Linked DNA regions of Homo sapiens. The protein of the gene in region 1 purifies or fractionates together with the protein of each later gene. This does not show direct contact. Each region holds a gene or a part of one and is shown on either strand. Other genes may lie near its edges.

What was found.
Region 2: the proteins of SLC35D3 (region 1) and GPCPD1 purify together in Homo sapiens (affinity purification with mass spectrometry; 3 studies listed by BioGRID and IntAct, with this or other methods). This does not show direct contact.

What each region holds. Positions count from the first base shown.
Region 1 is NC_000006.12:136,920,292-136,924,201, forward strand, and holds the start of SLC35D3 (solute carrier family 35 member D3), read left to right. Parts: upstream 1-2,009; 5' UTR 2,010-2,137; coding exon 2,138-2,576; intron 2,577-3,593; coding exon 3,594-3,910. UniProt on the Homo sapiens protein: Probable UDP-glucose transmembrane transporter involved in UDP-glucose transport from the cytosol to the lumen of synaptic vesicles. It is involved in platelet dense granules maturation.
Region 2 is NC_000020.11:5,555,123-5,559,032, reverse strand, and holds part of GPCPD1 (glycerophosphocholine phosphodiesterase GPCPD1), read left to right. Parts: intron 1-213; coding exon 214-349; intron 350-927; coding exon 928-1,088; intron 1,089-3,910. UniProt on the Homo sapiens protein: May be involved in the negative regulation of skeletal muscle differentiation, independently of its glycerophosphocholine phosphodiesterase activity.

The DNA.
Region 1 (3,910 bases):
TCCTAAATAACATTAACTCTACAAAAACAGAGTCACTTAAACAGCCAATAGTGTGTAACCACAAGTTTTAGCAACAAAAACCAAGGGCTCCCCAGAGAACCGGAAGCACGTGTTTCAGTATAATGCTTTCCAGCTATTCCTGGAAAGTTGGCACCCTGGGCCATTCACAAACTTTTTTTGAGTGCCCACCTGTCGGGAGCAGGGACGTGGCCCTCCTAGGCACCGGGCACATAAGCTGGTGGACTGGTTGACCCCGAGCTCTCTAGAGCTCACCAAAGTGAGCATCCAGAGCCCCAAATGCTGGCCCAAATGAAGGGCTGCTGTGATGCTGCTGATCCCTGCTGTAATTTTTTTTTCTTCCTCTGTTGCGGTAAATCACGACTTCAGCACTTTGGCTGAAGTGTCGCGTTCAGCACAGAGGTGGAAGTAAGAGGCAGAAAACAGAAGAACCACGAGAGAAATGGATCCTGTCTATTAAGGCAACGTGATGCAGCGCTAAAAGGTTAGGAGGTTACGATTCCCGGGGCTAAGAGAAATAAACTGCTGGTGGTGAACGAAAGGGGTGCTGGAGCGCAGCGATCTCGAACCTTTCCCTTATAGCCAAACCCTGGCCAAGGCCACAAATTTCAAATCGCCTGAAAACCAAACTGTCTGGCGCTTAACGGTTACCTCGGCTGAGCGAAACCCTTGGCTGCTGCTGATTTAACTACAGGTCCGCGCGAGTTACTTTCCAGGGAACTGAATTCAGAACAAAGAGTTACCGAAGCCTTACTCCCTCTCCAAAATTAGAATTCCCTTTTTCTCTTAGTCATATAGGAAACACACAGTTCACAAGTCCTGTGGTGCAAAGGTGTGAACCCTGGCCCAGGGAGGTGGTGACTCTCCCCGCCCTCCGCCTGCCGGTTGTCCTGCTTCCGAAAGCAACCCACGACGGTCCCGCAGGGTGAGGGTTCCCTGGGATCAGTTCCCTGGGATCCGGAGAACGCCACGCGGAGTCTCCCTGCAGGGTGAGGGGCCCCGGGTTCCCGCCCCCTCCCCCTCTACTCTCCCATTCTGCGAGCGCAGCCAGCCTCCCCTCCCACGCTTCGGGAAGCGTCGCCCCCGAGCTCCTCGGTTCCTGGTGGTGGCTACTCGTGTTAGTGACTTCGTTTCTGCGCGTTTGCTTATTTTCATCTTTGCCTCAGTTCGAATGTGTCCCCGCCACCAGGCCCCGCTGCTGGGCGAGACCACTGAACCCCCTGAAAGCTTCCCCGGAGCCGCGCGCATAATCCCGGGACCCTCTCTGGAAGGCGTGCGGAGAGCGGTGCGCGTGGCCTGGCACCGGAAGGAGCCAGCTTCCGGGCTCCGAGGCACCCCCTGGACAGCGCCCCGGGCCGCGGGTTCCTCCTCCGATGCCCGGGCGTCGTCGCCGGGATCGGGAGCTTCGGGGGCCCGCCGGCACCGACGGTTTTCGCTTCCCTGGCGGGCAGCTGGACGAGGTCCCGCCGCTGCACCGGGAGGGACAGTGGGTGGAAAAAGCCGCTGCAGCGCCGGGGCGAGGGGGCTGGGGGCGCCGTCACTTGTTGCGACCAATAAACGGCGCTCGATCCTGATGCGCTGTTTCTAAAATCTTTAGCTGTGTCCCGATCCCTCCAACCCAAGCCCCTCGGCCAGGAGGAAGGGGCAAGCGAGAGCCGCTGGCTCTGTGGGGGGAGAGGGGCGCCGCGCCCCAAGAGCCCCCGTCCCGCCCTGCGGCAGCCGCCCCGGGGCGCCCAGCCGCCCGCTTCCCTCCGCAGAGCGTCTTCCCTGACGGTGAAACCGCGCGGGACACAACCCACCGCGGCTCATCACCCACTTACAAATAGCTGTCGCTAGGATTCCCGCCACTCCTCTCAGACCGGCCCCCCCGCCACCTCTGCCACTTTTCGGAGTCCCCCGCCCTCGTCACTGCCTCCCCGGAGCTGCGGGGCAGTCGGACGCAGAGCTGCCTAACCGCAAGAACGCCTGGCCGGAGCTGCCCTCTGCAGCCGAGCCGGCGCCCCCTGCCCTTCGCCGCCGCGCTGGGCGGGCGCCCCCGCCGCCCTCACTCCGCTGCTCCCGGCTCCTCGCGCGCAGGTCGCGGAGCTCCGCCACCGCTGGGTGCGGCGAGGCCGGCGCGATGCGGCAGCTGTGCCGGGGCCGCGTGCTGGGCATCTCGGTGGCCATCGCGCACGGGGTCTTCTCGGGCTCCCTCAACATCTTGCTCAAGTTCCTCATCAGCCGCTACCAGTTCTCCTTCCTGACCCTGGTGCAGTGCCTGACCAGCTCCACCGCGGCGCTGAGCCTGGAGCTGCTGCGGCGCCTCGGGCTCATCGCCGTGCCCCCCTTCGGTCTGAGCCTGGCGCGCTCCTTCGCGGGGGTCGCGGTGCTCTCCACGCTGCAGTCCAGCCTCACGCTCTGGTCCCTGCGCGGCCTCAGCCTGCCCATGTACGTGGTCTTCAAGCGCTGCCTGCCCCTGGTCACCATGCTCATCGGCGTCCTGGTGCTCAAGAACGGCGCGCCCTCGCCAGGGGTGCTGGCGGCGGTGCTCATCACCACCTGCGGCGCCGCCCTGGCAGGTGAGCGGGCCCCCGCGCCGACCCCCAGCCGACCCCACCCACCCCGCTCCGTCGGGCAGAGACCGCGGGGATCACTGAGTTCAACGACCTCACTTCCAGATGGGGAGACTGAGGCAGAGAGAGCCGGAGAGCTTTGAGAGTGGTCGCTCAGCTCGCAAAAGGGACTTCCGAGACCCAGAGAGCTCCCCAGCGCCCCACCAAGTCCCCCTGCCCCCTAATGTCCTGGCTTCCGACCCTCGCCCATGCTTCACCCGGCATCGCCCTTCCTGTCGCCCCCTCTCCTGGTCTTCCCCTGTCACCCCATTCTCCGGGAGAGGTGGGAGGGCCGCCTGAGCCTGGGAGCTGGAGTCCTCCAAGCCTGGACCAAGCCGGAAGGAGGGGGCCGTGAACTTCCTTGGGTCACGAGGGGCTGGAATGGAGGTGGGGGATGGGGGCGAAGCTGAGGGTTCCCGGGGCTACTGCGGGGTGTCTCGTGCTGCGCAGGGGGCTGCGGCCCTGGGGCAGACGACCCAGGTGCTGAGCGAGACGAGAGCCTGGGCAGGGGGAAGCTTCACTGGGGGCCAGAACAGGCGTTCTCCCCCGCGCCTGGCCCGCTCCGGGTTGCAGGCCACTGGCTGGGGCTCCCTCTCCCTTTGGTGCCCCACGGGGCAGGGGCTCCGGGGTGCAGGTACCACGCGCCCAAGTGACCTCGGTGCCAGCTCGGGGAAGCCACAGCACCTGCCCCGAGGGCATCTGCGCTCTCCGGGGCCTTTGTCTTGGACAGAGGAAGATGGAGTGACCCGGGGATATGGCGGGAAGGCGCTCTGAGCACTGAGTTTGGCTGTCGCATTTGACACGGGTGGCCGAGGGACGGCGGGCGTCTGTCACTCAGGAATCCGGTGGGCAGAGCTGGGGCGCGAACCCAGTCTCCTTTCCTACCCGACGCGTTTTCCCCGTGGGTCCCCGCCCACGCCAACCTGCTGTCTTCTCTCTTTTTCCTTCCCGCCCGGGCTCGGCCGTCCTCCTCGTGCGCCGCAGGAGCCGGCGACCTGACGGGCGACCCCATCGGGTACGTCACGGGAGTGCTGGCGGTGCTGGTGCACGCTGCCTACCTGGTGCTCATCCAGAAGGCCAGCGCAGACACCGAGCACGGGCCGCTCACCGCGCAGTACGTCATCGCCGTCTCTGCCACCCCGCTGCTGGTCATCTGCTCCTTCGCCAGCACCGACTCCATCCACGCCTGGACCTTCCCGGGCTGGAAGGACCCGGCCATGGTCTGCATCTTCGTGGCCTGCATCCTGATCGGCTGCGCCATGAACTTCACCACGCTGCACTGCACCTACATCAATTCGGCC
Region 2 (3,910 bases), on another chromosome or scaffold:
TGGGATTTCGCCATGTTGTCCAGGCTGGTCTTGAACTCATGACCGCAAGTGCTCTGCCCGCCTTGGCCTCCCAAAGTGTTGGGATTACAGGTGTGAGCCACCATGCCCGGCCTCGTTTGTTTTCTTTATACTTTCAGTGTTTTCTAAAATTCCAAAAAGGAATATTACAGTTACCCCCCATTGAAAGGTATTTTTAAAATTGTTTCTTTTCAGGGTTCGGCAAAAGCAGAACAAATATCCGATACTATTTTTAACTCAAGGAAAATCTGAGATTTATCCTGAACTCATGGACCTCAGATCTCGGACAACCCCCATTGCAATGAGCTTTGCACAGTTTGAAAATCTACTGGTAAGTTATGTTTGAATTTTTATCTTTTTAATGTTCTGTTTTCTATTTTGGAGTAGTAGTAAAGATTTCATATTACTTTACCCATCTAATGTTAACGTTTTGACTAAACTGTAGCAAACAAGTGGCTCTACTTAAAAACGAGGATATTAGATCTCAGGATGAAAAACAATTACATTAAGTACAAAATTTGTTATAGGCATACGTTAAATTTTTTAGTTTAACTTTCTGAATAGATTTTATGAATAATCTAAAAATGTTCAGACTGTATGCCTTTTAAAAATATTATTCCCATTTTACAGATGAACGTGAACTTGTTTTGGTAGAGCATTCCATTAGTACATTTTTTGACTGCACATTCAATATGTATGCTTATACATTATGTATATATTAATATATTGTGAATATATTTATGTATGAAGTGTCCATTAAAAAGAATAAGTTAAAGTAATTGGAAGAAAAAAATCTACCATTTTCTTTTCCCGCCTGCTGTACTTTGGAGAGCACTGATTTAGAGTGTGAGCATTTAGCTTTGCAGTTAATGTTTCTTTTTCATGCACAACTAATTTTTCTTCTTCTAGGGGATAAATGTACATACTGAAGACTTGCTCAGAAACCCATCCTATATTCAAGAGGCAAAAGCTAAGGGACTAGTCATATTCTGCTGGGGTGATGATACCAATGATCCTGAAAACAGAAGGAAATTGAAGGAACTTGGAGTTAATGGTCTAATTTATGATAGGTATTTGTTTTTCATGAAAAATTTTCATGGAATTTAGAAGTATAGATTTCATCTTACGAAATTATAAATAAAATTAAACTTAGTTAAGTTAAAATTCTGCAGTTCAGCCTGAGGTTATCTTGACATTTGCCTGTGGGTGTTTTCAAAGTTTGAAGGATAGCAGAATCACTTGGGAAGCTTGTTAAGGATTCAAATGACTGGGCCTTAACTCAGATATATATACTAAATCACCCTGGGGGTGAGGGTGACTGCCAGCCCTTAGACCTCTTCTCTGTCTATACCAACTTTTTCATTCCTCTTGTCCAATTCTGTGGCTTTTCATAACTTTCTGTGTTCTCACACTTACGTATCTCCAACTCAGACCCTTCCCTAGACCTCTGTAGACTTTTATTTCCAGGTACTGACACCTGTTCCTCTTACAGTCTTCCTGATTTCAGTATAAGTGACAATTCAGACCATATTCTTAGTCTTCCATGACTCTGTTCTTTATCTCATACCCCAAATCCAGTCAGATAGAAAATCTTTTTGTTCTGTCTTCAAAATATATCCTGAATCAGACTACTCACCAAGTTAACTGTTGTCACTCAAGTAAAGCAGCTCATCTTTGGTGTGGATTGTTGAGGTAGCCTGCCCCCTGGTGACTGCCTCTACCCTTAACGGTCAGGCTGTTTATTCTTAGTACAGTAGTGAGAGGGAAGCTTTTAAGACCTATGTCTGATCATGTTGCTACTTAAAACTCTCCCACAGTTTTCTGTGTCACCTAAAGGAAAAGCTGAAGCCTGAGGGCCCTATATGAGCCAATCTGCCACCCCACCACCTTCAACCCTCTTTCCCTCTCTGACCTTCCACAAAATTCCCCCATCTGCTGTTTCCCATTCTTTGGAGAAAGACTTCCGTAACAATTTAAATGTCACCTCAGTGAGGACTTTCTTGAATAACTGATTTCAAATAACAACTTCTATTCACAGTGCACTCCCTGACTTGTCTCCATATCATTTATCATCATCTGACACACCACATATTCTGTGTTACATTTTACTTGTTTTTCTCCCTAGCCCCTTTCCTCCATCCTCCTGGGCACTAATGCACACATGCAAATGAGAATATAGGCTCCATGAGGAGGGCAAGGCTGTTTGCCTGATTTGTTCATTGCTATTGAGGTTAGAACAATGTGGGGCATCCAGTAGGGAGTCAAATAATTTATTGAACAAATATTTTTTTTTCCATCAGCTTCTTTGGCAGCCACTAATCTGAGAGTCAAAAAGGTTTCTTTAGTATAAAGATATTTGGGGTTAGAAGGGATGTCATTTACTCTGCTGAGGGATTAGCAGACTTGCTCATACAGGTGTACCTCAGCGATAGTGAAGGCTGGGATCCAGACCACCACAGCAAAGCAAGTCCTAAATCTTTTGGTTCCGAGTGCATATAAATGTTATGTTTAGGCCGGGCGCAGTGGCTCACGCCTGTAATCCCAGCACCTTGGGAGGCTGAGGCGGGCAGATCATGAGATCAGGAGTTTGAGACCAGCCTGACCAACATGGTGAAACCCTGTCTCTACTAAAAATACAAAAATTAGCCGGGTGTGGTGGCACATGCCTGTAATCCTAGCTGCTCGGGGCTGAGGCAGGAGAATCACTTGAACCCAGGAGGCAGAGGTTGCAGTGAGCCGAGATCGCGCCACTGCACTCCAGTCTGGGTGACAGAGTGAGACTCTGTCTAAAAAAAAAGTTATGTTTATACTACATTGTAGTTTACCAAGTGTACAGTAGCGTTGTGTCTGAGAAAACACAGTATATATCTTAATTTTAAAATACGTTATTACTAGGAAATGCTAACAATCTACCTTCAGCAAATCATAATCATTTTGCTGCTGGAGGGTCTTGCTTTGATGTTGATGGCTGCTGACTGATTAGGGTGGTGGTTGCTGAAGGTTGAGGTGGCTGTGGCAGTTTCTTAAAATAAGACACAAATGAAGTCTGCTGTACCCGTGGACTCTTCCTTTTACACAATATTTCTCTGTTGCACATGATGGTGTTTAAGAGCATTTTTCACCCACAGTAAAACATCTTTTTTATTTGTTTTTGCTTTTTGAGACAGAGTCTCACTCTTAATACCCTGGCTGGAGTGCAATGGCATGATCTTGGCTCACTGCAACCTCCATCTCCTGGGTTCAAGCGATTCTTCTGCCTCCTGGGTAGCTGGGATTACAGGCGCACGCCTGCCACCATGCCTGGCTAATTTTTGTATTTTTACTAGAGAAGAGGTTTTGCCATGTTGGCCAGGTTCTTGAACTCCCGACCCCAAGTGATCCACCCGCCTTGGCCTCCCAAAGTGCTGTGGGATTACAGGTGTGAGCCACCGCGCCCTGCCAAAACATCTTTATTTTTATTTTATTATTATTTTTTTGAGATTGAGTCTCGCTCTGTCGCCCAGGCTGCAGTGCAATGGCACAATCTCGGCTCACTGCAACCTCCGCCTCCCAGGTTCAAGTGATTCTCCTGCCTCAGCCTCCCGAGTAGCTGGGACTGCAGGCATGCACAACCACATCCAGCTAATTTTTGTATTTTTGGTAGAGACAGGGTTTCACCATATTGGCCTAGGCTGTTCTTGAATTGCTGACCTCAGGTGATCTGCCTGCCTTTACCTCCCAAAGTGCTGGGATTACAGGTGGCCACCACTCCCTGCCCCACAGTAGTAAGTACATCTTTAAATTGGAGTCCATCTTCTCAAACCCTGCTGCTGCTTTATTCACTAAGTTTATGTAATATTCTGAATCTCTTGTTGTCATTTAAACAATGTTCAGAGCATCTTTGTTGGGTGGA